Linked DNA regions of Homo sapiens. The protein of the gene in region 4 purifies or fractionates together with the protein of the main gene of each other region. This does not show direct contact. Each region holds a gene or a part of one and is shown on either strand. Other genes may lie near its edges.

Region 1 (7,326 bases), on a different chromosome or scaffold from region 4:
CTTAGTCAGCCGCATCACTGTGAAGTAAAAAAGTAAAAGAAAACAAAACATTAATACTGCTTAGGGTTAATATTCTCAAGTCTAGTGTATGACATTCATCCATTTTATACTAACATAAAATATAACCTAAATACTTCCTAAATATAATACTACATACTTCCTAAGGTTATCACACATCAGTGATTTATTAAGAATTGTAATGTTACAAAATAAGCACCATTTATTTACAACCTATGAATTATAAAAATTAAATGTAAATACAATATGCATTCATTATAGAAAAACTGGAAAATATAATTTTTAAAGCTTAAAGAGTATTAGGAGCATAAGGCTTTAAAAAAATTCTAAGTGATTTCACCATAAACAATATCAACAAAATATTAACTTTGGAAACTCAGTAAGTGTTTTTTGTTTTTTTTTTGAGACAGGCTTACTCTGTCACCCAGGCTGGAGTGTAGTGGTGCGATCTCGGCTCACTGCAACCTCTATCTCCCAGGTTCAAGAGATTCTCCTGCCTCAGCCTCCTGAGTAGTTGGGATTACAGGAATGCACCACCATGCCTGGTTATTTTTTTTTTTTTTGTATTTTTAGTAGAGACGGGGTTTCACCATGTTGGCCAGGCTGGTCCCTAACTCCTGACCTCGAGTGATCTGCCTACCTTGGCCTCCCAAAGTGCTGGGATTACAGGCATGAGCCACCATGCCCGGCCAAGTGTTTCTTCAAGTAATATTAATTCTGTGTAGAAATTACAAAAATGTCAGAAAACATATACGTTTATATAATTCCAATCAAAAGTAAGATATTATTTTTGGAACATGACAGAATGTGTCTAAAGTTTATTTAGAGAAACAAATAAATGAAAATAAGCTAAGGAAATTAACGGAGAAAAAAGAGGAAGAACTGAATTTACTACATATTATAACATATTTAAGTCCATAATCAACTAATTGACTTATTAATATAAGACCATACCGATATATTAGTTTTTCAAAAAAAAGATAGGATATACTTATATAAAGAAATTGCTGGGAGTGGCCAGGCATGGTGGCTCACGCCTGTAATCCCAGCACTTTGGGAGGCCAAGGCGGGCGGATCACGAGGTCAAGAGATTGAGACTATCCTGGCTAACACGGTGAAACCCCGTCTCTACTAAAAATACAAAAAATTAGCTGGGCGTGGTGGCGGGTGCCTGTAGTCCCAGTTACTCGGCAGGCTGAGGCAGGAGAATGGCATGAAGCCGGGAGGCGGAGGTTGCAGTGAGCCGAGATTGCGGCACTGTACTCCAGCCTGGGCGACAGAGCAAGACTCCGTCTCAAAAAAAAAAAAAAAAAAAAAAAAAACGCTGGGAGAGATATTTTAAAAAACAACCTCTTGACAAAAAAAAATCAATTAAAGGATTAGAAGTTAAAAAAATCAATTAGCAAAAGGATTATTCATTATAAGGTGCAAAGACATGGTTAGCTATCTGGGAAAATAAAATTTAACTAAAAAATTCACTTTAAATATAAATAGACAAAAATTAAGCCACAGAAAAGTAAAAAAAAAGAAATTGAATATTTATTATAGTCTAATGAGTAAACACTCTATAATTTTTTTAAAAATCTTTTTCAGTTACTTCTAAAGACTGTCGTTTGACCACATCAAAATAAAAACAAAAACATAAAATTAAAAAATCATAAAAACTTGTAAAATTTTTCAGAAAATGAATCACAGAGGGCTAGTTCATTATTAAAAGTATTCCTTCAAATCTGGCTGGGCACAGTGGCTCATGCCTGTAATCCCAGCACTTTGGGAGGCCGAGGCGGGCGGATCACGAGGTCAGGAGATCGAGACCACGGTGAAACTCCGTCTCTACTAAAAATAAAAAAAATTAGCCTAGCATGGTGGCGGGCGCCTGTAGTCCCAGCTACTCGCAGAGGCTGAGGCAGGAGAATGGCGTGAACCCGGGAGGCGGAGCTTGCAGTGAGCTGAGATCGCCCACTGCACTCCAGCCTGGGCAACAGAGCAAGACCCCGCCTCAAAAAAAAAAAAATTCCTTCAAATCAAAGCCAAAATACTATAAAGACTATAGACCTACATGGTCAATTCAGAATATAAGTAATGTTCTAGCATATGTAAAAATGTACCACCCAACTACTAATTAACCAACTATGGCATTCATATCAAATTTAGTGGCTTTCTCATTCTGGTTTCAGCTTAAATGTCATCTTTTTCAGAAAAAAAGTAACAGGTCATTCTGTTTCACTCATGGTACCTTGTATTTATCATGCAGTATATTTATTTGTTTATAGCACTCCTTTCCAAACTCCATGAGGTCTAGGCTCTTATGTACTACGTTCAGTTTTGTAGCATCCATATTTGGTGTAAGTTCTGCTATTCAGATCTTCCCTGAATAAAATAATTAGCACTTCATGAAAGTCCCTAAATAACTGACATTATTTTGAAAGTGTAAGTTTCAGAAACTGAAGGCAATTAAAAACCTGCTATATTAAGCAGCTGGCTTTTGAAATAGTCAACAAATGCTACCCTTAAAATTTCTGAAGTTACTCTGTATAGCTAGCATTTACTGAGCATTTACTAGCGCCAGGCATTATGCTAAATATTTTACAAGCTGAACACATTTAATTCTCATGAGTACTCTCTAAGTTGGTATTACATTAACCCCAATATACAGATAGGGCATTGACAATACCTGCAGAGGGTAATTTGCATACAAAGGATTATATTAGTAGATAAGTGGTAGAATCTAGATTTGAACCCTGGTGATTTCACTCTGTTGAAAAATAATTCTCTATAATAATTATTAATTATAAGCCTGGAGCCATAAACCTGGAATGTCATGCCTTACCAGAAATACCCCATGGGAATTCAAAGTAGGAATGTATTCCAAAGAGTATTAATCAGCTACAGATGAATATGGGGAGGCGTTTCCAACCTTCACTCTTATTTTTAACTACGAAAACAGAGAAAAAGGTGCCCTGAAAACAGATAAAAAGGTGCCCTGAAAGTGATACACAGGAGGCAGTTTCTCCCAATTTAAACAGCTAAAATCACTAGACAGGGTCTCATTTTGTTACCCAGGTTGGACTACAGTGGCACGATCATGGCTGACTGCAGCCTTGACCTCCTGAGCTCAAGTGAACCTCCTGCCTCAGACCCACCCCCTACCCCCGCCCACCAAGAGGCTGCGACTACTGTCGCATGCCACCATGCCCGGTTAATTTTTGTAGTTTTTGTAGAGACGGAGTTTCACCATGTTGCCCAGGCTGGTAAGTTCACTTTTAGTACCAGTTGGTGTTTTCTATTTCTTCCCTATTATTTTTTTCATTTCATTAGAAAACAAATCTGAATAAAGAGAAAATACAGTCTCAAGGGAATCCTGAAACATTCCTTTTTTTTTTTTCTTAGTGTCCTGGAGTTCACCCAAACATGTAGCTAACATATTTGCTTATTATAGGTTCCAATTTCTATTATAAAGAAAAGTCCTATAAAGCTTAGTTTTTCATGATTCCTGTGGTTTAGCAGGGGATGAGATGGTGGGTAAAAAATGATCCTCCATTAAAAATAAAGTGATCCCAACTTGGTATTAAAAGCAACTTTTTTCTTCATATTTTCAGATTATGGCCTTTGCAGCAACGTAGATGCAACTGGAGGCCATTATCCTAAGCCAATTTATGCAGGAACAGAAAATCAAATACCACATATTCTCATAAGTGAGAGATAAACAATGAGTATACATGGACACAAAAAACAGAACAATAGACACTGAGGCCTATTTGAGGGTAGAAGGTGGCAGGGGGTGAGGACTAAAAAACTACCTATTGGGTATTATCCTGATTACATGGGTGACAAAACTATTTGTACACCAAACCCCTGTGGCACACAATTTACCCATATCACAAATCTGCACATGTACCCCTTGAACCTAAAATAAAAGTTAGAAAGAAAAAAAAATTAGTGGGCTTCCATTTTAAGCAACCTCAGCCATCTCAGGCTATGAAGAATCCCTCTGAAGGGAATGTTTACCATGCATTATCAAGCTCCTACCATGACAGGCACTGAGCTTCAAGGTAAACATGTCTATATTCCTAGTTAAGTGCAGTCTTATTTTTCTTAGGGAGCTGGTGTGTTTAATAGTAGTAATGACATGTAAGCTGTGTGAGGGCAAGGTCCATGTCTGTCTCCTTCCCTAGTATATCCTAGCACCTAGTGCAAAGTAGGCATTTAAATATGTTAAACAAACATACATGCTTCTACAAAACTTTTACTGTTTTAATCCCTTTGAGCATTTTTATGAGGTGATGTGTAAAACCAATTACAAGATTATGCTTATGGGGAACCTACAATGACTCCAATCATCAGCCAAGTAATAATTAGCACTAACTATCATTAATACTGAATTATCTGTATTAGAAGAAATAAACAATCATTCAACATTTGATACTTTCCTTCAAAACAGGATACATTATCGTTTTAGGCAAAGTATACATTTTGTATCGTTGTTTGAAAACAGCCTATCAATTGTTATTACATATCTTTGGAAACATCATTATAAATCTAGACTAGTCTCCCACTTTGAACTACATTCATGCCACATAAATAGCACTCCAAAGAGAATTGTTTCGAGTTTTATTTTTTAAAAAATTACACTTGAGGTAAGGAAAAAAATACAGTAAAATTAGATTTTAGAGATTAACCAAAATCCAAACTATACAACTTAATTCATGACTAATTCAATCACAGTTTGTAACAAAAGGAACAGAACATTTTTACCTTCAAATTCAGTGTAAACAATAATTTATCACATTTAAAAGAAGGCTGCCAATAAGCAGAACTCAGCAATTTCTTGACTTAATTGACAAGCCTAGGAATTCTAAAAAGTCATTAAAAATTTTAAAACCTGTAAAAATTATTTTATCTATTTCAATCCATATTCATTTCATTCAGAATATTCTTTTTGACAATCAGTGGAATTCATTACATACTAAAAATAACACCATATTTATGCACAAATAAATTAATTTTTCCAGTAAGAGCTAATCTTCCTTTAAGAAGACTTCCCACATATTCACAATACATAATATCACAGAACACCCATATTTGGCCTAAATGCCTCTGAATTGTAGCATTACAAGATGGAAGTTCATTGTGCCTAATAATTTGATTGAGTTTTGTCCAAATGTCTTCCAGAGTTTGGCTGTTACAAATAGTGTGTTCTATTGTCCATCTTGCTCTATAAAGTGAGTGTAAATTTAGTGCCTTTAAACTATCTTGCAATTTTTTAGACAAAGGAGAAACGTTTTTAGTACAATTATTGCTGGGAAGGGAAATACTCCAAGATCTCCTCTTGTGCTGTTTTCCCTTTTCTGATTGTTTACCCAGATTTCCAGAATTAGTCTGTTCCTTCAGTGTGTGTGACCAGGTTAAATGCTGCTTTTTCAAGCTAGGTTGAAACTCCAATAGATCTACTGTGCAATCATAACTGTGTGACTTAGCATCATGTTCTGAAATGGTTAAGTACTGTTTCACATCTTCAGCTGCCTCTTCAGAAATCACAGGTGGTGATCTTTTAGGTCTGAGTGGAAGCTTGGACCCATCATATGGAAACCAAGGTATAAATCTTGATAGCGGACGAGTAGGAAAGTCTTGAATTGCTTTTTCTGCAATTTTTGGCAGTTGTGTGGGATCACTCTCACATGGTCGATAATGTAATATTACTTCTGTAGTCATTCTGCAGTAATCCAGTTACTCTTAGTGATGAGAAAATTTCTTAGTTGAACTCCTCAGAGCTAGAATGTTAATTTATTATTGCAAGATTGTCTCTCTTGCCAAATCAGAGGGAAACAGGACCTAAAGTAGAAGTATTGCAAAGAATAAGATATGGTAGGGATACCCTGCCTACCAACAGGCAGGGAGAAAAGGAAAAACAAAAAACAAAAACCAATCCCAATGTGGTATTTTACCAAAGTGCTATTGGTAAATGTGAATGTAATCTACAAACCTGAAAATTCTTTCTCTTACCAAAATAAGGGATCTGAACTAGATGCCCTATAAAATCACTTCCTGCCTAAAAACGCTAGTAGTCAACATGTTTAACTCAATAGATATAAAGGACTTGGAAGTATCGATATTAATATATTAAGTAATAATAGTCTTAAAACTTTAGCAGAAACAAAGAGTAAATGAATGATTCTTAAAATATTGTTTTCATATGAATTAACAAAAAATGTAATATTTAAAAATTTGAGGCAACTAAATTGAGGACAATGAAATCACTGTAAATTCTAATCCAACATGGTGAAAACCCATCTCTACTCAAAATACAAAAAAAAATTAGCTGGGTGTGGTGGCGCATGCCTGTAGTCCCAGCTACTAGGGAAGCTGAGGCAGGAGAATAGCTTGAACCTGGGAGCCAGAGGTTGCAGTGAGCCAAGATCATGCCACTCAGCCTGGGCGATAGAGCAAGACTTCATCTCATTAAAAAAAAAAAAAATTCTAATCTGTCTGGAAGAAAATTAATCATTTTATACTTAAAATTATGTAGATTTGCCAGGTGCGGTGGCTCATGCCTGTAATCCCAGAACTTTATGGGGGCCAAGGCGGGCAGATCACGAGGTCAGGAGCTTGAGACCAGCCTGGCCAACATGGTGAAACTCCGGCTCTACTAAAGATACAAAAAATAGCCGGCTGTGGTGGCGTGTGCCTGTAATCCCAGCTACTCAGGAGGCTGAGGGAGGAGAATCGCTTGAACCCGGGAGGTTGAGGTTTGCAGTGAACTGAGATCGCGCCATCGTACTCCCATTGCACTCCAGCCTGGGTGACAGGGCAAGACTCCGTCTCAAAAAAAAAAAAAAAATTATATGGATTCCACCAAACAAATATATAGATAGAATATTTGATGATTTCACGTCATTCTCTGTAGTAAAAACTAAAACCATTAATATGGTTTAACTTTGCTAATATGGTTTAACCAGGCTAAGAACCAGTTTTGTGACACTGTCTTCTCCTCATAATCCAGGCAATTAAACAGTATGGAGACCCCAATACCATGGCTTTTGAATTCCAGTTTGGAAGAGAACAAGAAGTCTAGACTCCTATTTTTTTCTCTTAGAGCACAGAAGTCCTCAAGTTGCCCCAAATTAAGTCACTGATAATAAATTCCAGCATATGGTGCATAGGCTCAAGAATGGAGCCTTCCAATATCTGCAAGTTAGGCTTGCTAATCAGGCCCAAAGCTGTAAGAGCCATAAAACAGACTTTTTCACATCCTAACAACAGCAGAAAAAAATAAGTTGAATCCCTTCTCCCCAAAAATCATTAGAGAAT
Region 2 (7,846 bases), on a different chromosome or scaffold from region 4:
GACTCAGTCTTTATCCTACAGAAATTGCATTTTTAATTGAATCTGCCGTGAATTTTCTAATGAATAGGATGATATTTTATATGCCTATATGTATTGACGTACCTCCTGGTAAATGAAAGGTTTACTACCTTCCGGGAACCAGTTACTGTTTAGATTATGCAGTTTGTCCAAAATTGCCTTTATGTCTCCAGGCCACATGTGCTTGGAAGCATCAATTCTGAACCCTGCAACACCAATGTCAATGAGATGGTTCATATATTCGGCAATCTTAGAACGCACATAATCCTTCCCCAGTGCAAGATCGAGAAGACCAGACAGACGACAATCTCTGACCTGTTGAGGTAAGAATGTTATGATTGATTAATAAAACCTCACTTTTCGCCTGAGAATCCATTTGATTATTCATTTATTCCATGATTCCTCAAGAGATATTCTATGGTGACTTCCTTGCATTGGACACTGGGGATGCTCACATTCTACTATAGATGTATCTTGGAAATATTTTCTAATAGAAAATAGAGAACTTAGGAAATAAAGTCGATGAGTTTTTCAATTGGTTGGGAGCTTTTTAAAAGTGGACAAATGTGTATTGATTAAAAATCTTAAATCAATATTTAAAGGTTTTCAAATATGGATTTGAGTTTCTTAAAGTAGTCAAACTTGTTAACCTCTGTCCCTAAGAGATCTAAATTCATATTTACAACGAAGTTCAATTAGCTACATGTCTACAACAAAAGGCATATATCACTCCTTATTCAGATCACTCTCGTAAAAAAATTACCTGAGTAGCATCATTATAGTTCTCGATATCTCCACTTCCAGTTTTACATTTACCATCATTAAAATCCCATCCAGAATATGGGACTGCTGGAAAGTCCCTACTTCCAGGGTTGAAGTAACTTCCACAGGTACTGCTTGTTCCTGCACTCACAGCATTACCACACATATGATTAATTACAGCATCCACATAAATACGAACCTAGAAAACAAAGTTTCTAATTCAGTGTGACTTACAGAGAGGCAGAAATTTAAAGAATTATTGATTAAATTTATAGTGTGCTAATAAAATTCCAAAATATTTCATACCTTATAACTATTTTCCTACAAGATCAAAAATCAACTGTGAAAGGAAAGTAATGTGAACTAAACACCTACATTCATTCCAGACACTTGGCCAAATATATATAGGAATGATAAACTGAGAGAACCGGAAACTACCATAAATAGGAGGAAAGGCAAAAAGCCCATTTTGGGGAGACACAACTCAGATGAGACTGAAAAGGTTACTATTTGGGAAATTTCAGTGGGTCACCAGGAGAAAGCCTGTACTCTCTACTAAGCTTGGAAGACAAATAAGGTAGCTATTCATCTCAAATTCTGCTCCTCATTAAATAGATAAGCTACCTATTCACCACAAAAAAAACCCAAGAATTAGGAATGGAGACACAAGTCATCTAAAAATGAGAGCAAATATTGTAACTGGAATTAAAATTCCTCACCAGAAAATCCTTCCAGGAAATATGGATAGTTATAGCGGTTAAAATTTGATGTTTTGCTTCAGAAGTAAACTCTGCTATAAACTTTAACTTATCTCTTTAGTAGAGAGCACATATACAAATATTTTCAAAAATTGAACATAAGGTGACAGTTACTTTTGAGTTTTAAAGTATGAAGTAAAATTAAAACTGATATGGAAAACTTTCTGCTCAAAAGGAGCAAGAAAGAAGAGACAGAAATCATTTTCCTATCTGTTATTTTTAAAGGAAACTAGAATTCACTTACCCCAACATTGTTGCATCTAGTCACCATGTTTCTAAATTCATCTTCATTTCCAGATCTTGTGCATAATTTATAGCTAACTGGTTGGTATCTTTCCCACCAAGGTCTGAAAGGGTTGTGAATGGCAACATTTTCATTTGGTGGAGAGACCTACAAATTAAACAGTCTTCATAAGTACCAAATTCTGTCTTACTGTATATCATTGAATGTTCTAGAATCTAATCAATAATACAAAAGATTCTTGAATCTTGGTATAGGCAGCTATCTCTTGAAAATATTAACAGCACATCGGAGGGCTCTTGTTGAAGAAAGATTATATCAGAAACAAAATATACAGTTGCAAAGAATACTACATTGTTTTTTCCTCAGAAAATTCTTTTACTTAGAATACTTACCTGTGAAGTAAAATGTTGCCCAAGCTTCACGTAGAAGATCAGAATAGTGTTTACTACAAGCACAGTGAATTCTGCAATTGATACTATGAATCATACCCACCTGAACCCCTCCAAATCCCTTGGGAGCTAAATATCGCTCACATTCAAGAGCAATATCAACCCATCGCCATTCAAACAGATGAACAATAGATGTTCGTCCTTGTTGTGTATTTGAGGAATACTGAGCCCAGCAGAACCCAATGGTGAAAAGCAACCAAAAGAGCTTCATTTTGCTTTGAAGTTGTCAGTGTCCTTTCCAGAAACTATTTATATTCCTGTAAGAAGCACATTTTACAATGTAAATAGTAGCATGAATAAATACTTGAGGGCAAACTGTTTATTCATAATCTGAAAAGGATTATCAATAATAATCCTAACTGGTGAAGAACATCAAAAAGTCTCTCATGGAAATCATCTCAATGACCTCTTAGACATTAATGTTTCTTTTCTTTTCTTTTTTTTTTTTTTTTTGCATATGGTAGCACTTTTATTTTTCCTTACACAATGACATGTTGCTGTGGCCTAATGTTCTCACATAACAGCAGAAAACCAAAATTTGTTGTCAACTCTTAAAAGATCGAGAATTGCATACTAAAAAACTTTACATAAATTAAAAGGATGAATACATTTACCGGTATAAATGCGAACCGCTTCCAACTCAAGGCAAGTAACAGCCCACGGTGCTCTGGTAGATAACGTAAGCTAAGAAAGGAAACTGGGTCCTATGGCTTGGACTTTCCAACCCTGACAGACCGACAAGACGGAAACAACTGGTTCAGGAGCCCTTCCCAGCCTCTAGATAAATCTCAGAACACTCAGCCCTGACACATTAATACCCTGCACGGATCAGAGACTGCTGACCACACAGACTCACCAAGCCAGACTTGTCTTCCACAAGCACGTTTTTAGCCATGAAGTGACCAAGCCACGTGTACTAAACACTGACATCAAAGGTATGTACAGATACCAAGGGGAAGAGTTAACTTGAATGCCAGGCCAAAATCAGCAACAAGTTCTACAATCCAGTGCTGATATTGAGAAGAGAGAAAGACCCTGTCCTCTTGTTTTATATTGTTTTCTATTCAGTAAAAACAACAAGGAAGCAAAATCAAAGGCACAAAACCAGGCCTGGGCCTGGTTGGCCTAAACCCAGTAGTTACAAATCAACTTATGATTTAGAAGCCGATGTTATTCATAGATTCCAGACATTGTATAGAAGAACATTGTGAAACTCCCTTCCATATTCTGTTTCTCCCTGACCACGGGTGCATGTAGTCCTTGTCGCATATCCCTGGCTTGTTCAAATCAATCACGACCCTTTCATGTGACATCTTTAGTGCTGTGTGCCCTTAAAAGGGACAGAAATTGTGCACTTGGGGAGCTCGGATTTTGAGACAGTAGCTATCCGATGCTCCCAGGTGAATAACACCCTTCCTTCTACAACTCGGTGTCTGAGAGTTTTGTCTGCCGCTTGTCCTGCTACATTTCTTGGTTCCCTGACCTGGAAGCAAGATAACTGATGGACGGCCGAGGCAGCTCCTTAGGCAGATTAGGCATGCCTTGTGGAGTAAGGCCGGGGCATCCCTCAGGCTGCCAGGGACTCTGGCCAGCCTGAGGGATGGGATCCAAAGAGCGCTCCCAGGTAGGAAATGGCCCCGGTTGAACGCCTCGCCAGAGCAGTGATCCCCGCGGAGGATTAACACAGTGGCTGAACACCAGGAAGGAACTGGCACTTGGAGTCCAGACATCTGAAACTTAGTAAGACAAGTCTTTTCAACTTGCCCCACTCCACCTGAGCGGAAGCTTGGCCTGATCGCTCATGGTGTGCCTGCACCCATATCAATTTCCATATAGAGATTCCTAGTTACAGCTAGTTTTAGATCCTCTACAGTGGTAAAAGGACAGGCAGCAGCAGTAGTAGTAGCAAAGGGACATTTATTTCAGGAAAGTTCTCGCTCCACCGGCCAAGAGAAGCCAGCACCTAAAGTTCTGTTTGACCCAGAGCTCGAGGACTCAAGGCAGGAGATGGCACCAACAGTGCCCTCAACCCCTTATCCAGTGGGGAGGCCCCCTTCTCCTGAGCCCACAGCCCCTAGACCACCCAGAGTAGACAAGAACAAAAGTGAAACTGCGGGAAAATCCACTTCCCTGGCAGCCCGCTTAACGGCCCAAGACGGGAATTCAAATGCCCTGAGAGAGCAGCGATATACTAGGACAGATGAGGTCAGACATACGGTAGAAAGGCATGCTTTTGTGTATCACCCTTTTACCTCTGCTGAACTACTCAACTGGAAAAATAACACTCCATCTTACACTGAAAAGCCTCAAGCCCTAATTGACTTGCTTCAAAGAATTATCCAGACTCAGAATCCTACTTAGGCTGATTGCCACCAGCTACTCATGTACCTCTTTAAAACACATAAAAGGCAACAGGTGCTGCAGGCAACAGTTAAATGGCTGGAGGAGCACATCCCAGCCAATTATCAAAGTCCCCAAGAATACATAAGAATTCAGCTGCCAGGAACGGACCCTCAATAGGATCCAAATGAAGGACCAGATATGGAAAGGCTAAGAGGGTACCGAGAGGCATTAATTGAAAGGTTGAAAAAAGGGGCTCAAAAGGGTACCAATGTAAATAAAGTTTCTGAAGTCATCCAAGGAAAGGAGGAAAGCCCAGCCCAGTTCTATCAAAGACCGTGTGAGGCCTATTGCATGTACACTCCTTTCGATCTGGAGAGTCCTGAAAATCAGCCGTTGATTAATACGGCCTTAGTTATTCAGAGTGCAGAAGATATCCAGAGAAAATTGCAAAAACAGGCTAGGTTTGCAGGAATGAAAACCTTGCAGTTACTGGAAAGAGCTAATGAAGTATTTGTAAATAGAGATGCAACAAGCGGCCAAGAAAGCCGTAAGGAGGGCGAACGCCAGGCCAGGTGAAACGCTAGTTTGCTGGCTGTGACAATTAGAGGAATTCTCCTGAAAAGGCAGAAAAAAGGGGGTTCTGGGAGGAATGCCCTGTCCAATCACTCACATTTGCAGCATGACTAATGTGCCTACTGTAAAGAAATAGGACATTAGAAAGATAAATGTCCCCAACTCAAAGAAAATCAGAGTGATGCAGAGCCAAAGACCTCAAACCAAGATGAAAGGATTTTGTTCAATCTAGCTGAGGGGCTGCTAGAATTAAGGGGAACAGGCTCAAATGCCCCCAAGGAGCCCATGGTCAGGATGACAATAAGGGGCAAAGACATTAAGTTTTTAGTGGATACAAGAGCCGAACACTCAGTAGTAAGCACTCCAGTGGCCCCCTCATCTATAAAGACGATTGATAGAATTAGAGCAACAGGAGTCTCTACCAAGCAGGACTTCTGTCTACCGCGCAACTGCTCAGTGGGAGGACACAAAGTGATTTATCCATTTCTGTATATGTCTGACTGTCCCTTGCCTTTGTTGAGAAGAGACTTGCTTAGCAAGTTAAGAGCCACCATTTCCTTGACAAAACAAGGCACTTTACAGCTGGAGTTGCCAGAAACAGGAGTCATCATGGCCCTTCCAGTCCCCCAGGAAGAAGAGTGGAGACTTTTGCTAACTGAGCCAGCTCAGGAAATAAAAGTGGCTCCAGCTGAGTGACGGCTCTGAGTAGAGATGGAGGACAATCCTCTGAGGCTGGCAATCAATCAAGCCCCCGTACTCATAGAAGTTTAGCCTACGACCTAGCCAATTGGACAAAAGCCGTATCCTGTTCCCAGGGAAGCCTTTAAAGGAATAGAGACTCATCTTATATGCTTAAAAGCCTCTGGAATTCTAGTTCCTTGCCAGTCTCCATGGAACACCCACCTCCTACCTGTCCCTAAACCAAGGACCAAAGACTATCGACCCGTACAGGACTTGAAAGATGCCTTCTTCACATCAGGCTAGTTCCTGAGAGCCAAAAGCTGTTTGCCTTTCAGTAGGAAGATCCGGAGTCAGATGTCACCATTCAGTACACTTAGACTCGACTTTCCCAAAGGTTCAAAAAGTCCCCCACCATCTTTCGGGAGGCCTCGGTTGGAGACCTCCAAATGTTTCCTGCTAAAGACCTAGGTTGCATCCTGCTCCAGTATGTAGATGACCTTCTGCTAGGACACTCCATGGCAGTCAGGTGTGCAAAAAGGACGGGTGCCCTGCTTCGACACCTGGAGGACTGTGGATATAAAGTGCCCAAAAAGAAAGCTCAGATCTGCAGACAGCAGGTACACTACCTAGGATTCACTATTTGAAAAGGGGAGTGCAGTCTATGGTCAGCAAGAAAGCAGGTCATCTGCAGCTTACCAGAACCTAAAACCAGGAGGCAAATAAGAGAACATTTAGGAGCTGTGAGATTTTTGCAGACTGCAGATTCCAAACTTTGTGGTGTTAGCCAAAGCATTGAATGGAGTTATAAAGGGGGTGACCGAGAGCCTTTTAAATAGAGGTCTCTACAACAACAAGACTTATAAGTTAAAAGAAAAACTTATGTCAGCCCAAGCTGACTCTAATGTAACTCTAAGGAACACCAAAAGACACCATTGGCTAACAAATGCTACATTAACTAAACACCAAAGCTTGTTATGTGAAAATCAATGTATAACCATAGAAGTCTGTAATTCTTTAAATCCTGCCACTTTGCTCCCAGTATCAGACAGCCCTGTTAAACATAACTGTGTAGAGGTGTTGGACTATGTCTATTCTAGCAGACCAGATCTTTGAGACCAGCCATAGGCATTGGTAGATTAGGAGTTCTACATGGACAGAAGCAGCTTCATCAACCCGCAAAGAGAAAGGTGTGCAGGATATGCAGTAGTAAACTTAGATGATGTTGTTGAAGCTAAGCCATTGCCTCAGAGCACTTCAGCCCAAAAAGCAGAACTCATTCCTCTAACTCGGGCTCTGGAACTCAGTGAACCTAAGATTGTAAACATCTATACTGATTCTTGATATGCCTTTCTAACCCTTCAAGTATGTGGAGCATTGTATAAGGAAAAAATTCTAGAGGAAAAGACATAAAATGTCAGCAAGAAATTCTACAATGATTAGAAGCAGTGTAGAAACCCCAAAAGGTGGCATTCATGCATTGCAGGGGATATCAGCGAGTTTCCGCTTCGGTTTGCCAAGGAAAGCCCTGAGCAGACACAGAGGCAGGAAAAGCAGCATCTACTCCTTACCAGACATCAGTCACAGCCCTGCTACTCCTTCAAATGCTTGATCTGGTGCCAACTTATTCTAAAGAGGAAAAAGAATTTTTTCAGACAGAGAGAGGACAAACAATAAAGGAAAGATACATAAAGTTACCAGATGGAAGAATAGCAGTGCCACCGCTGCTATACAGTCATGCTGACTGTATGTGAAACTACCCATTGAGGCCAAGAATCACTTGAAAAGCTGTTAGGCCAGTATTTCTACATCTCACCCTTGCCAGCTGTTGCTACAACAGTAGCGCAGTGATGCCTTACCTGTGGACAGCACAATGCGAAGCAAGGCCCCTCTGTACCTCGGGGAATAGAAGCCTCTGGAGCAGCTCATTTTGAAGATCTTCAAGTGGACTTCACAGAAATGCCTAAATGTAGAAGTAACAAGTATTTACTGGTTCTAGTGTGTACTTACTCTAAGTAGGT
Region 3 (8,295 bases), on a different chromosome or scaffold from region 4:
AAAGTCTCCAAGGGAAAATAGTTCAAAACTTTATTCTTTTTAGGTGGAGAGATAAGAAAAACAGAAACAGAAACATTTATCAGGATTTTACTTTCTGAGATTGTGTTTCTAGTGATATACAATACCTCTTAAAAAAATACATGAAAAAAATGTACCTGACACCAATTCAGCCACAAAAGGAAATTAAAAAAAAATGTTAATTGAGCAGCCAACTGATGCCACGTACCACCTGAAGCACATCTATAGTCTATAAGCCTGAAAGGTACCCGACATCACCATGTTCCAACTACTAAATGGCAGAGTCAGGACACTTACCAAGGACTACCTAACAGCAAAGCATGCTTTGTGATTTACTGTATGCTTGAGCCAAATTATTTAGCTCTTCTCAGCTTCCGTTTTCTCAGGTGCAATATAATTAACAGTGCCTATCTCAAAGAGTTGTTGTGAGAATTAAATGAGATAAGCATATAAATACTTGCCACAGCATTTGTATAGAGTCAATATAATTATTCAAATTTCCTCACAACATTTAATTATGTTGACAAATCACAACTGATTAAGCCATTCTTTTAAAAAATGATATTTGGGTTATTCCCAACTTTTTGCTCCTATAAATGATGCTACAAACAAACAGCATTTTTGCAAATATAACTTTTATTTTCTGAGGCTTTAGGATAATTTCCAAAATACCAGCTCATAAAGTATTAGTGTATTTGTGCCTCTTGCTACAAGTTACATGGAAATATTTTAGATTGAGTTGCTGAGAAGGGGGAAGAAGAAAAGAGAACCCTACACATTAAATGTCCTACAGTATGTACATTAATACATTTTTCTCTATAAGACCTCAGGCTACTCTCTCAACTTTGAACACCATCAGTTCTGGTGTCAAAGTCAAGGTGTAGGTCACCCAACATGCTGGGTTTTTAAATCTGGCTTTTCCAGATCAACCTGCCACCATTTAATGAAAAACTCCACAGGAAAGATGAAGGAATGTTCAAGGTTTTCCTCCTCATGCACCAAGCTGATCCTTTGTATTCACATATCCAAAAGGTATGCAAATTGGCTAAAATGAAAGGGCTGATTGAACTTTGGCAGTCAAAACTCATCTTTGCTGATAACATGACGTAGACTTAAAAGAAGCATATGCAATTGATATTGTATGTATATCTTCATGTTTTAACATCATCTATTATCAGAATAAAAAGCCTTTGAAAATCAAATGTGATCTTTCTCTAAAGAGAAATCTCGACAAGTTAATAGGCATTACAAACTGAATTTAAAAGCAAATAAGAGTTTTAAGTGAGGGTGGAGGGGCAGGTAAAAATGCCACTGATTAATATTTACCTTGAAAATGGCTTGCTTTTCTTGCTGTTGCCAAGAATGGTAGTTCCTGCTGGCCCTAGTTTGGCACTCTCTCGTAACCAGTTGGCAGGTGGGAGTTTCAAGTCTGTTTTCTCTTCAAGGCGTGCAAATGCTGTTCGAGGAGGGGCAGAAGAGTATTTCACCACAGCTCGGCTCTTCACTTCATTGCCTCCAAGAAATAAAGCTGATCCCTAATTAACACATTGGGTGAAACTTTAATGAAAATTACTAAGAACGAAAAATCTCACCTTTATAAAAAGAAAACAAGAACCTGTCACACCAGGCTTCACAAGGAACGTATGCCACATGTTACTAACAGCACTTAATAAATTTGAGCATAAATGGTAACATTTACTTAGTTCTTTTACACCAACTTCAAAGAAAAAAGATGAGTCAAGGAGTATGATGGTTATGGTTATCAGCTAGAAAATGGACCACCCACATCTCTTTTAAAATGTATTCATGTAAAGTGGAGAAGCAGAAACCAAGGAGACTCAATGGTATCATGTTAACTAGATGCAAACTTTAGTAAAGCCTATTTTCAGTATTAAAGATGTATTTTAATTCTTTTTTTTTTTTTTTTTGAGACGCAGTCTTGCTTTGTCGCCCAGGCTAGGGTGCAGTGGAGCAATCATGGCTCACTGCAACCTCGGCTTCTGGGGTTTACGCCATTCTCCTGCCTCAGCCTCCCTAGTAGCTGGAATTACAGGCGTGCACTACCACGTCCGGCTAATTTTTGTATTTTTAGTAGAGACAGGGTTTTGCCATGTTGGCCAGGCTGGTCTCGAACTCCCCGACCTCAGGTGATCCACCCACCTCGGCCTCCCAAAGTGCTAGGATTACAGGCGTGAGCCACCGCGCCCGGCCAAAGATGTATTTTAATTTTAATAACACATCATTCATAAAATAGTCTGGTAGAACATTTGGGCTTTTTGTTTTAATGCAAATATTTAGTAATCGATGCATCGGTTCATGCATGCATGCATGGTTCAAATACTCTTGAGTCTCTAACTTCATAGAAAGGCATTGGGGGTTCGTTCCTCACAGCCTGCACTTGCACACTCCCAAAGCAAGTTCGGCGTCTGGGTTCAATATTCTAACCTTTCACGCAGTACCTCTTCTGCATGGCAAACATTTTACACCCTTTGTGAATTAGTTCGGTCTCATTCTCGGCGAGTCACTACCTGGCACCGTTTCTTCCCTCCTGCTTTGCACGACTGTGCCACGTTTTGGAACGACATATTTACATGTACCCTCCTTGAGAGGAAAGATCGTATCTAATTCACCTGTCGGCTACCAGAACTGCTTTTAATACGAATACCTGCCGACTGGAGCATGGACTTCAACTCCCTGTTTTGGGGGTGTCAGGGAAACATGGAGAAGCCTCCAGAATCTGCCGGGAACCGTGGCATCCCTCCCCGGTGGAGCGGGTCCTCCGCTCCCACATCCCTGGCAGGTCCCCCTCCGCGGAGGACTCACCTGTGCAGAAGATTCCTCGGATTCTCCCTGGGACAGGAGGCTGAGCCCTCCTCGAGCGGCGGCCCCGGCCGGCGGACCCTCGGCTCCGGCCTCCTTGGCATCCCCCATCACTTCGATCCAGGGCAGGCGATACGACGGGGGAGCGGAGGAGCAGCAGCAGCAACGCAGGCCCAAAGCAGGGTAAGCGCCAGAGACGCTCCGCGGACCGCACTTCCGGTCTCTGCCAGGAAGAAGTAGCTGTGACTCGCCATTAAATCTCGCGATCTTTGTCCCGAAGGCCCGGCCCCGCCTCCCGCTGCGGGTGCCACCTTCGCGGCCAGGGCGGGAATTGTAGTGCGCCTGCGCTTGTCCGAACCTCTTCGGGAGACTACTTCTCGCGGTATCTGACTCCTAGGCTCCGCCCTCTGCACGCCGCTCACGGTATCTGACGCTCAGGCTCCGCCCCCTGCATGTCTTTGTTGGCAAACAGTTCTGGGGGTCGTCCGATCCTGCAGGTAGTGTCCGCGTGGGAGGGGAGGTGCAGCCGTCAGCGCTGCCGGCGGCTCCCGTTACGTGAATTAGTGAGAGGTTCAAACTTCTTCCCCAGGCTTCAGTGTCACATCTTTTCACACGGGCACCCCGAGGGCCCGGACTGGAAAGGCGAGCCAGCCATCTCGAGACTGGGCGCTCCTGCCCGCCTTTTAGTGCCCATGTGGCCCCATCCTGGGTGTGGGAGCGGCGGGGCTTCCGGGGAGGGCGCTGGGACGCGCGGACGAGGCCCTCCCCGTTTAGGGAATGGGTGGCTTTCGGAGTCTTCTGGGGGCCCGGCATGCCCGCTGCTTGCGGGGCGTCCCAGGTGGTGCAGGACCCGTGAGACGCTGAACCTGGGGCCTCGTAACGCCTAGGTTTCCATTCGGGCGCTCTGGATGGGTCCGAGACTCGGCATTTCTCACAGGTTCCCAGGAAACGATGCCAGCGCTTTGAGTAGCGAAGAGGTGGAGAAATAGCCCGGGCCGTTTGCAAGCTTTGAAGGTCCAGGCTCTCTTTCACACTCCTCAGTGTCATCTCAAACTGTCAAACGCAGCCACATCCGTTATACAATACATGTTTTGTAGTAAAAGTGTTTTGTTGTGCCGTAAGATACAGAAAGTGTTTTTAAAAATTAACTTGGCTCTTGCAATTTGGCTGTCTCAATTTGTAATTCACGTTTGGCTCTTACAACTCACTGTCCTGTCCGTTTTCAGGAATGCTCCTGATGAGTAAGCATTCAACTCACAAATTGCTTTCAAATGTAACAAAACAATTTTATGAATTAAATTTAACAGGCCGGGCGCGGTGGCTCACGCCTTTAATCCCTGCACTTTGGGAGGCCGAGGTGGGCAGATTGCCTGAGGTCAGGAGATCGAGACCAGCCTGACGAACAGGGTGAAACCCCATCTCTACTAAAAATACAAAAATTAGCCAGATGTGGTGGTGGGCGCCTGTAATCCCAGCTACTAGGGAGGCTGAGGCAGGAGAATCGCTTGAACCTGGGAGGCAGAGGTTGCAGTGAGCAGAGATGGCAACACTGCGCTCCAGCCTGGGCGATAGTGAGACTCTGTCTTAAAAAAATAATAATAGTGAATTAAATTTAACAGTTAATTTGATATAATAGTGTATTTTGTAGACATTTACTTCAACATGTATTGATTTTGATTTTTATCATTTCATTTGAATATTGCAGCCAATAATTCTTTTTTGGTTTTTGCAAGTTATGCATTGTTTTTTATGGTGAAAAGTTGAACATAATATCTAACACTAGGAGGAGGATAGTCAAATTTGGTTTTGGTAGAAAATAAACCCTGTGCAACCATAAACTTGTTTTTCAGGAATATTTAAGAACATTTAAATTGCATATCATATAATGTTAAGTGATAAGTGAAATTTTAAAAAGCCAATATGCAGCCTAGCGCGGTGGCTCACGCCTGTAATCCCAGCACTTTGGGAGGCAGATGCGGGTGGATCACGAGGTCAGGAGATCGAGACCATCCTGGCTAACACGGTGAAACCCCGTCTCTACTAAAAATACAAAAACAAAATTAGCCAGGTTTGGTGGCAGGCACCTGTAGTCCCAGCTACTCAGGAGCCTGAGGCGGGAGAATGGTGTGAACCCAGGAGACGGAGCTGGCAGTGAGCCGAGATTGCACCACTGCACTCCAGCCTGGGCAGCAGAGCGAGACTCCGTATAAAAAAAAAAAAGCCAATGTGCAATATGATCTTAATTTTAAAAACGTCTCCATTTCTGTCTCTGTGTCCACAAAACAGACCTCTGAGCCGTAAAATGAAGTGATTTAAAATTTATTCTTTACATTTATTGATTTGCATATATTGAACTAGCCTTGCATCCCAGGGATGAAGCCCACTTGATCATGGTGGATAAGCTTTTTGATGTGCTGCTGGATTCGGTTTGCCAGTATTTTATTGAGGATTTTTGCATCAATGTTCATCAAGGATATTGGTCTAAAATTCTCTTTTTTGGTTGTGCCTCTGCCCGGCTCTGGTATCAGGATGATGCTGGCCTCATAAAATGAGTTGGGAGGATTCCCTCTTTTTCTATTGATTGGAATAGTTTCAGAAGGAATGGTACCAGTTCTTCCTTGTACCTCTGGTAGAATTCGGCTGTGAATCCATCTGGTCCTGGACTCTTTTTGGTTGGTAAGCTATTGATTATTGCCACAATTTCAGAGCCTGTTATAGGTCTATTCAGAGATTCAACTTCTTCCTAGTTTAGTCTTGGGAGGGTGTATGTGTCGAGGAATTTATCCATTTCTTCTAGATTTTCTAGTTTATTTGCATAGAGGTGTTTGTAGTATTCTCTGATGGTAGTTTGTATTTCTGTGGGATCGGTGGTGATATCCCCTTTATCATTTTTTATTGCATCTATTTGATTCTTCTCTCTTTTCTTCTTTATTAGTCTTGCTAGCAGTCTATCAGTTTTGTTGGTCCTTTCAAAAAACCAGCTCCTGGATTCATTAATTTTTTGAAGGGTTTTTTGTGTCTCTATTTCCTTCTGTTCTGCTCTGATTTTAGTTATTTAAACAGAACCAAAGACAAAAACCACATGATTATCTCAATAGATGCAGAAAAGTCCTTTGACAAAATTCAACAACTCTTCATGCTAAAAACTCTCAATAAATTAGGTATTGATGGGCTGTATCTCAAAATAATAAGAGCTATCTATGACAAACCCACAGCCAATATCATACTGAATGGGCAAAAACTGGAAGCATTCCCTTTGAAAACTGGCACAAGACAGGGATGCCCTCTCTCACCACTCCTATTCAACATAGTGTTGGAAGTTCTGGCCAGGGCAATTAGTCAGGAGAAGGAAATAAAGGGTATTTAATTAGGAAAAGAGGAAGTCAAATTGTCCCTGTTTGCAGATGACATGATTGTATATCTAGAAAACCCCATTGTCTCAGCCCCAAATCTCCTTAAGCTGATAAGCAACTTCAGCAAAGTCTCAGGATACAAAATCAATGTACAAAAATCACAAGCATTCTTGTACACCAATAACAGACAAATAGAGAGCCAAATCATGAGTGAACTCCCATTCACAATTGCTTCAAAGAGAATAAAATACCTAGGAATCCAACTTACAAGGGACGTGAAGGACCTCTTCAAGGAGAACTACAAACCACTGCTCAATGAAATAAAAGAGGATACAAAGAAATGGAAGAACATTCCATGCTCATGGGTAGGAAGAATCAATATCGTGAAAATGGCCATACTGCCCAAGGTAATTTACAGATTCAATGCCATCCCCATCAAGCTACCAATGACTTTCTTCACAGAATTGGAAAAAACTACTTTGAAGTTCATATGGAACCAAAAAAGAGCCCGCATTGCCAAGTCAATCCTAAGCCAAAAGAACAAAGCCGGAGGCATCACACTTCCTGACTTCAAACTATATTACAAGGTTACAGTAACCAAAACAGCATGGTGGTACCAAAATAGAGATATAGATCAATGGAACAGAACAGAGCCCTCAGAAATAACGCCGCATATCTACAGCTATCTGATCTTTGACAAACCTGAGAAAAACAAGCAATGGGTAAAGGATTCCCTATTTAATAAATGGTGCTGGGAAAACTGGCTAGCCATATGTAGAAAGCTGAAACTGGATCCCTGCCTTACACCTTATACAAAAATCAATTCAAGATGGATTAAAGACTTAAAACGTTAGACCTAAAACCATAAAAACCCTAGGAGAAAACCTAGGCATTACCATTCAGGACATAGGCATGGGCAAGGACTTCATGTCTAAAACACCAAAAGCAATGGCAGCAAAAGCCAAAATTGACAAATGGGATCTAATTAAGCTAAAGAGCTTCTGCACAGCAAAAGAAACTACCATCAGAGGGAACAGGCAACCTACAAAATGGGAGAAAATTTTCGCAACCTACTCATCTGACAAAGGACTAATATCCAGAATCTACAATGAACTCAAACAAATTTACAAGAAAAAAACAACCCCATCAAAAAGTGGGCGAAGGACATGAACAGACATTTCTCAAAAGAAGACATTTATGCAGCCAGAAAACACATGAAAAAATGCTCACCATCACTGGCCATCAGAGAAATGCAAATCAAAACCACAATGAGATACCATCTCACACCAGTTAGAATGGCAATCATTAAAAAGTCAGGAAACAACAGGTGTTGGAGAGGATGTGGAGAAATTGGAACACTTTTACACTGTTGGTGGGACAGTAAACTAGTTCAACCATTGTGGAAGTCAGTGTGGCGATTCCTCAGGGATCTAGAATTAGAAATACCATTTGACCCAGCCATCCCATTACTGGGTGTATACCCAAAAGACTATAAATCATGCTGCTATAAAGACACATGCACACGTATGTTTATTGCGGCACTATTCACAATAGCAAAGTCTTGGAACCAACCCAAATGTCCAACAATGATAGAATGGATTAAGAAAATGTGGCACATATACACCATGGAATACTATGCAGCCATAAAAAATGATGAGTTCATATCCTTTGTAGGGACATGGATGAAATTGGAAATCATCATTCTCAGTAAACTGTCGCAAGGACAAAAAAACAAACACCGCATGTTCTCACTCATAGGTGGGAATTAAACAATGAGAACACATGGACACAGGAAGGGGAACATCACACTCTGGGGACTGTTGTGGGGTGGGGGGAGGGGGGAGGGATAGCATTAGGAGATATACCTAATGCTAAATGACGAGTTAATGTGTGCAGCACACCAGCATGGCACATGTATACATATGTAACTAACCTGCGCATTGTGCACATGTACCCTAAAACTTAAAGTATAAGAATAAATTAAAATAAAATAAAATTTATTCTTTAATATTTTCTTTTCCTATTTTTATTTCTGATTATTATAATATGTAATTTTGTTAAGCTTTTACACACATACATAATTCAGCTTGTGATAATCTTTAAA
Region 4 (7,326 bases):
GATGTGTTATTTATGAAATTCAGCATCATAGCTTACACTGCTCATGTACAGGAATTCCTCCATGATAGGTATCTAGCAGTGGAATTGCTAGGTCCTAGGTACTACGACCACATATTTATTGTCTCAACCAAGACTCCTTTAAGAGTGAAAGGAGACACTTAATGATTTTACTGAGGCGAAGCACGTGGCTCACGCCTGTAATCTCAGCACTTTGGGAGGCCAAGGCAGGAGGATCACTTGAGCTCAGAAGTTTGAGACCAGCCTGGCCAACATATTGAGTCCCCATCTCTACAAAAAATACAAAAATAGCTGAGTGTGGTGGTGCACACCTGTAGTCCCAGCTACTCCAGAGGCTGAGGCAGGAGGATGGGCTTGAGCCCAGAAGATCGAGGCTGCAGTAAGCCATCATCGTCCCATTGCACTCCCGCCAGGGTGACAGAGCCAGACTATGTCTCATAAAATAATAATACTAATAAAATAATAGAAATAACTTAAACCATGGGTGAAAAATTGAATTGTTCTGGGAAAAATCAAGATGTATAGTTATCAAAGTGATAAGATAATGTGCTTTTTAAACTTTACTAGATAATACCAAGTGGTTTCTCAACATGGATGTTCAAAGGTATACCTCTTTCAGCTCTGTTGCTTATTTTTCTAATGGATCATTTAGTGTGCTTTTATTAATTTGTAGGGATTCTTTATGTATTCTTCGTGTTAATCCTTTCTCAGTTACATTTGTTTGTTTCACTTTTTTTAGGTTTTTAATGATAGAACTTTCCATTTTAATATAGCAGATGTATCCATTTTCCCTTTATGGTTTGTACTGATTATGCCTAGTTTAAGAGGCTTTGCCTACTCTGAAAATATATTCTCTTATATTTTCTTCTGAAAGTTTTGAAGTTTTGCCTTTCACAGTTAATTTTTGATCCCCCACCCCCGCCCCGCCCGAGACGGAGTCTTTCTCTGTCACCCAGGCTGGAATGTCGTGCCTCAATCTTGGCTCACTACAACCTCTGCCTCCTGGGTTCAAGCGATTCTCCTGCCTCAGCCTCCCGAGTAGCAGAGTAGCTGGGATTACAGGTGCCCGCCACCACACCTGGCTAATTTTTGTATTTTTAGTAGAGACGGGGTTTTACCATGTCGGCCAGGCTCATCTTGAACTCCTGACCTCGTGATACGCCCGCCCCGGCCTCCGAAAGTGCTGGGATTACAGGCGTGAGCCACCGCACCCGGCCTTCACAGTTAAGTTTTTAACGTCCCTGAGATTGATACTGTGTCTGTGGTGAGACAAGATTCCAAGTTTATTTTTTCCCAGCTGCATGATTTGTCTACACATCACTCAAGGAAAATCGTCTCTTCCTTTGATGTGTGCTACATATTCCCTTGTGATAGTTCAGTCTTGTTTTTTTTTTTTTTTTTTTTTTTTTTTTTTTTTTTTTTTTTGAGATGAAGTTTCGCTGCTGTTGCCCAGGCTGGAGCACAGTGGTGCGATCTCGGCTCACTGCAACCTCCGCCTCCTGGGTTCAAGTGATTTTCCTGCCTCAGTATCCCAAGTAGCTGGGATTACAGGCGCCCTCCACCACACCTGGCTAATTTTTGTATATTTAGTAGAGACAGTGTTTCACCATGTTGACCAGGCTGGTCTTGAACTTCTGACCTCAGGTGATCCACCCTCCTCGGCCTCCCAAATTGCTAGGATTACAGGCCTGAACCACCGTGCCTGGCCCAATATTTCAGTCTTTATACCATAGATTTTTGATGTATTCTACATAAATAATCATACACGAAGAATGAAGGTTTGTATTTTTTTCTTTTCAGTTTTTATTGTAGCTTTTAGTTATTTTTCTTGCCTTAATCCTGCCCGAGGACTCCAGTATTAGGCAGCATAAAAATGTTGAAGAGGACATCTTTATCTTTTTTCTACTTTTAAAGAGAATGCTTTAAACGTTTCACTGTTAATTTGAGGTTTCCTTTAGGTTTTTGGTAGATACCTTTGATTGCATTAAGGAAGTTACTTTCTGTTGCTAGTTTGCTGACAGGTTTTATCTTGAGCAGATGCTGAATTTTATTAGATACTTTCTTGTGCATCTATTGAGATAGTCATGTACTTTTATTTAATCTATCGCATTAAACCAACAGTACATTTCTGGGATTACCTGAGTTTGGTAGAAAATAAATACATTGCTGATTCAGTTAGCTAATATTTCAAGATTTTTGCATGTGTGTTCATGAGTGAGATGATAGCTTCCCTTTTAGTATGGCCTTGTCAAATTTTGGTCTCAAGGTTATATTAGCCTTATAAAGTGAATTGGGTCATGTGTCTTTTTTCTTCTCTGCAAGAATTTTTGTACTGTAGGAATTATCTGTACGGAATCTTTGGTAGAATTCACTGGTAAACCCTCTGGACCCTATATTTTCTTTGTAGGAAGACTTAACTACTGGTTATACTTTTTTTATGGTTATAGAACTATCTCGTCATATATACATGGTTATTACTAGTGTCTGCTTTGCATTTGAACCTTACATTGGAATAAGATTAGAGTAAGGAAACCCTTGAAGTGAAGAAGCTATTTTGCTACAAATTATATGTCCATTCTCACAAAATCTTATGTATATAATTTATATAGATGTAGCTTTATAATATATGTATGTCTTCCCATTCATAAAAGCATCATCTAAATCACGTTTTATATCATTTTTATTTGAGCATTCCTCTTGATTTTCTAGAGAAGAAACCCTCAGATCCTTACTTACAAGCATTTTCCTGCATCTAGATTTTATTTGTGTGAAAGCAAAAGTGATCATCCTTGCCCTAAATTATTAGGGCTTTTTATTACTTTGGTATTTACTTAAGAATAAAATTTATTTTTTTATTTTCTTCTCTTCTCAAAAGTGGTTTGCAGGTATTAATGAAAATTTTGGACATTCCCATTTTATCAGTTCTCCTTAATTTACAATTTATAAAGTTTTTAAGCTTTATAATTTAGAAGCATTTTACCTTAATTTTTATTATTTTGGTGGTTTTTCTAGGCGATGTTTTTTGTTATTATATCTCTGATAAACAGATTTCCCTAAATCTTACAGGTTTAAAGCAGCTTCATCTTCACAATAGTAAGAATTGTTTCTTTAAAAAGTTTCTTCACAAAGGCAATAAAACTTTTAAAATCTGTGAGATTGAATCAGAATTAGCTTTAGAACCTAGAATTTTGTTAGGGCTGAGGGTAGATGAGACGGAGGGAAGATCCCTTTCTCTCATCATTAGCTTATATCGAAATCAATTCTTATTTCTAAAATAAAATACGCAGACCACGCTAGTGCCTTCAAGTCCTGCTGGGAGACTTCAGAGGGGGCACTGCCTCATGCTGCCTGTTTGCTCCTTGTGCCCGGCCTCTATCCCTGCACAGGAAGGACCCGAAGGAGCAGCCTTACCATGCACAGGGGGCTCCCCCTTTGGGGTTCTAGGGCAATTTGTTCTTCGGGCTCCCGGTGAAACATGGCAGGAAAAAAAACGTTTTACTCCTTTTCATTGGATTTTTTATTCATTTATACTTAACAATTATTGGATGAATGTATAAGGGAATTAGTAGCTGACCAGGCTGAACCGGAAACTTCTTCAAAATGTATAACTTGGATTATGTACTTTAAAATAATGTTTTGGGAAGGCTGACTCATTGGGAATACTATGATGGAAGTGTTGACAGTGAGAAAAGGGTAGTCTTATCTAGAGATCAGCTAAGTGTCATTTTTTAAGTAAAAAAGGTACGTGTTGTTTTATTCTGAAAAAAATCCCTTATCTTTTATCATAGTCTCTTAGATTTCCTTAACTTGAATTTGTTCACTATGAGAGTAAAACTACATAAAGTAAAAGTTTTTCAAGAAAAAGAACAAATACTTTTTTACAGTTTGAGCTCTTTGTCTCATTCTTTGGCTGGTCCTGGTTTCCCCACTCACTAGCGGTGTGATTTCGGCTTACATAGCCTCCCAAGGCCTCAGTGTCCTCATCTGCGAAACGAAGACAGTGATAGCAGCTGTCTCGAGGGGTGTTCTGAGAATCACACAGGCATATGTATATATAGCCAGGGGCATAGTATGTGCGGATAAATGTTAGCTAGTTGTGTTGTCAGCTTCAGCCATCAGTGCTTAGTGAGTGTGCTGTTTTCTTACTGTTTAAATTTTTCATGTCATTCGCACTGTATCAGATTTCCAGAGTCAGGCAGATAATATGAGCTGGGGCGTGGGGCGGGGGTAGGGGCGGACGGCATGGGGAAGTCAAGAGACTATTACAAATTGAAGAGTCTTGGGAGGGCTTCATGGAAGAGGAGGGACTTAGCTGACTCTCAGAATGAAGTAGTGTTTATATGGCTGGAACCTCACACCTACTGGAATGGCTACTATGAAATAAAAACAAAATAACAAGTGTTGGCAAGGATGTGAATTCCAAGGCTTGTGCACTGTTGGTGGGAATGACAAACGGTTCAGCCACTATGAAAAACAGTTTTTTGGTGCCTCAAAAAAATTAAAAATAGAATTACCATATAATCCAGCAGTTCCTTCTAGGTATTTACCCAAAATGATTGAAAGCAGGGTCTCAAAGAGCTGTTTGTACAGCCACGTTCATTGCAGCAGCATCCACAATAGCTAAAAGATGGGAGCAACCCACGTGTTCAACAACAGATAGCTGGATAAACAAAATGTAGTGTATGCATACCATGGAATATTTTTCATCCATAAAAAGGAAGGAAACTCTGACCAAGCTGTAGCATAAATAGCCCTTGAGGACTTTATACTGAGTAAAATCAGCCAGTCACAGGAAGACAGTTATCGGGTGATTCCACTTATTTTATAGTAGAATGGTGGATGCTCTAGGCGGGGGAGATGGGTATACGGGGGAATGTTTAATGGGGATGGAATTTTAGTTTTGCAAGATAAAAAGTGTTCTGGAGATTGGTTGCACAGAAATGTAGATGTACTTAACACTACTGAACTTAAGGTGGTCAATTTTATGTGTATTTTACCATAATCAAAAGCACATGGATAAGAAGCTGGAGAAATGGAAGTCTGCGTCATTTGAATCTATAAGCAATACTCATTTTTCGGTTGAGGTGAATGAAGATCACGCTCAGGGGCCTTCTCTCTGTCTTTGCTTTCAGGGTCATGGAGGACGCTGGCGGCGGCGAGGAGACCCCGGCCCCGGAGGCCCCGCACCCCCCTCAGCTCGCGCCTCCGGAGGAGCAGGGGTTGCTCTTCCAGGAGGAAACCATCGATCTTGGCGGAGATGAGTTTGGATCCGAAGAGAACGAGACCGCATCGGAAGGCTCGAGTCCTCTCGCGGACAAGCTGAACGAACACATGATGGAGAGCGTCCTCATCTCTGACTCCCCCAACAGCGAGGGCGACGCGGGCGACCTGGGCCGAGTGCGGGACGAAGCTGAGCCCGGAGGGGAAGGCGACCCAGGCCCGGAGCCCGCGGGCACCCCGAGTCCCAGCGGCGAGGCCGACGGCGACTGTGCCCCCGAGGACGCGGCACCCAGTAGCGGAGGGGCCCCGAGGCAGGACGCGGCCCGCGAGGTCCCAGGCAGCGAAGCCGCGCGCCCGGAGCAGGAGCCTCCCGTTGCGGAGCCGGTCCCGGTGTGCACCATCTTCAGCCAGCGCGCGCCCCCAGCCTCCGGGGACGGCTTCGAGCCGCAGATGGTGAAGTCGCCCAGCTTCGGTGGCGCCAGCGAGGCCTCGGCCAGGACACCGCCCCAGGTCGTGCAGCCCAGCCCCAGCCTCAGCACGTTCTTCGGAGACACGGCCGCCAGCCACTCCTTGGCCTCGGACTTCTTCGACTCCTTTACTACCTCCGCCTTCATTTCCGTCAGCAATCCCGGCGCGGGCTCCCCGGCCCCCGCCAGCCCGCCTCCCCTCGCTGTGCCCGGGACCGAGGGGCGCCCCGAACCCGTGGCCATGCGAGGGCCCCAGGCAGCTGCGCCCCCGGCGTCGCCAGAGCCTTTCGCGCACATCCAGGCAGTGTTTGCAGGGAGTGACGACCCCTTTGCCACCGCCCTGAGCATGAGCGAGATGGACCGGAGGAACGACGCCTGGCTTCCCGGCGAGGCTACGCGTGGAGTCCTGCGGGCCGTGGCCACCCAGCAGCGCGGCGCCGTGTTCGTGGACAAGGAGAACCTCACCATGCCGGGCCTCAGGTTCGACAACATCCAGGTGAGCCCGGGTCTCCCACCTCCGCAGCCCGTGCCTCCTCTCTGCGTCTGTGAGATACGCACAGTGCCCCTTTAGGGATGGAGAAGGAGAAGGCCTTGTTTTCAGTAATTCCTAACATCCCATTGTGAGCGCCTGTGTTCCTCTGTCCCTGGGTAATTAGGGATCTGTTGGTTTCCCCAACAGAACATATTTAATGGACTGCTACTCAGAGAGGTAGAAATAAATACCACCAAGGCAGACAGTTCTACCGTAATTCTCTCAGTCAGTTCTCCATGTCCTGTAATCCATTTGACATTTGAACTCCAGTTAATAATAAATCCATTTCTTTCTTTAAAATATGGAAAAATATATTCCTGTAACATATAATGTGCCCGATGTAGAATTTTTATAGGTTGAATAAGAAAAATACGCGTGACCCAAAAAGTAACAAATCACAGAAATATATAAATGTTAAGCTAAATGGTAACATACAAATGTTCGATCTCACTACTAATGAAAGACAATTGATGCAGGGTTTTTTTCGGTGCCGCTTTGCCAGCTGGAGACCTCCGTGGTCGGCGATGCCCCTGCCCAGGCCTCTCTCGGCCCAGGTTCGCCCACTAGGCCTGCCGGGCCGCACCTGGCTTGCGCTTTGGCATATCCCGTGGCCTCGGTGACTGTGCTCTCAGCCCCCAGCAGGTGGGTTGTGCGAGCAACTGAGTGTAGGGGTCCGGGGGCTGCTCCAACCGCCAGCATAGGAGCAGGCTTCACACGGGGCTTGTAGCTGGACCAGGCGTGTGGCAAGTGACTCCCACAGTGGACTCCTGCGTCCAGGCGAGGGGAACACCGTGGCGCCCGAAGAGCAACAACCGCGACCCCGAAGCCCGAGAGGGGATGTTACAGCGTGCACACAGCTCTTTTCGACCCGCATCTGCTGCCGGACTAACGGGCATCTTAACGGCTCTAAACGGGCGCATTAACAGACCACTGCTTCCCGTTGAGTGGGGCAGCCGAAGGGGGTGGGGGATGGAGGGTTACAGTGTTATTGCTGTCTTGGTACCTGCACTCCGCGGAGTCCTGAGTTCTTGTCCTGCCTCCAAGAAGAACGAGATTATGCCGACAACCAGAGTGTGAGGAGGGCGGACG

The links.
Region 1: the proteins of TRAPPC12 (region 4) and TRAPPC13 purify together in Homo sapiens (affinity purification with mass spectrometry; 3 studies listed by BioGRID and IntAct, with this or other methods). This does not show direct contact.
Region 2: the proteins of TRAPPC12 (region 4) and AMY1C purify together in Homo sapiens (affinity purification with mass spectrometry, with the first as the bait; 3 studies listed by BioGRID). This does not show direct contact.
Region 3: the proteins of TRAPPC12 (region 4) and EDRF1 purify together in Homo sapiens (affinity purification with mass spectrometry; 3 studies listed by BioGRID and IntAct, with this or other methods). This does not show direct contact.

What each region holds. Positions count from the first base shown.
Region 1 is NC_000005.10:65,627,992-65,635,317, reverse strand, and holds part of TRAPPC13 (trafficking protein particle complex subunit 13), read right to left. Parts: intron 5,851-7,326; exon of another isoform or gene 5,731-5,850; coding exon of another isoform or gene 4,978-5,730; exon of another isoform or gene 4,390-4,977; intron 18-4,389; coding exon 1-17. Other genes in the region: SHLD3 (shieldin complex subunit 3), read right to left, coding at 4,978-5,730.
Region 2 is NC_000001.11:103,745,066-103,752,911, reverse strand, and holds the start of AMY1C (alpha-amylase 1C precursor), read right to left. Parts: upstream 3,015-7,846; 5' UTR 2,846-3,014; intron 2,489-2,845; 5' UTR 2,443-2,488; coding exon 2,275-2,442; intron 1,930-2,274; coding exon 1,783-1,929; intron 980-1,782; coding exon 782-979; intron 334-781; coding exon 103-333; intron 1-102. UniProt on the Homo sapiens protein: Calcium-binding enzyme that initiates starch digestion in the oral cavity.
Region 3 is NC_000010.11:125,714,462-125,722,756, reverse strand, and holds the start of EDRF1 (erythroid differentiation-related factor 1), read right to left. Parts: upstream 3,049-8,295; 5' UTR 2,950-3,048; coding exon 2,842-2,949; intron 1,554-2,841; coding exon 1,345-1,553; intron 1-1,344. UniProt on the Homo sapiens protein: Transcription factor involved in erythroid differentiation. Involved in transcriptional activation of the globin gene.
Region 4 is NC_000002.12:3,382,470-3,389,795, forward strand, and holds part of TRAPPC12 (trafficking protein particle complex subunit 12), read left to right. Parts: intron 1-5,150; 5' UTR 5,151-5,154; coding exon 5,155-6,201; intron 6,202-7,216; exon of another isoform or gene 7,217-7,326. UniProt on the Homo sapiens protein: Component of the TRAPP complex, which is involved in endoplasmic reticulum to Golgi apparatus trafficking at a very early stage.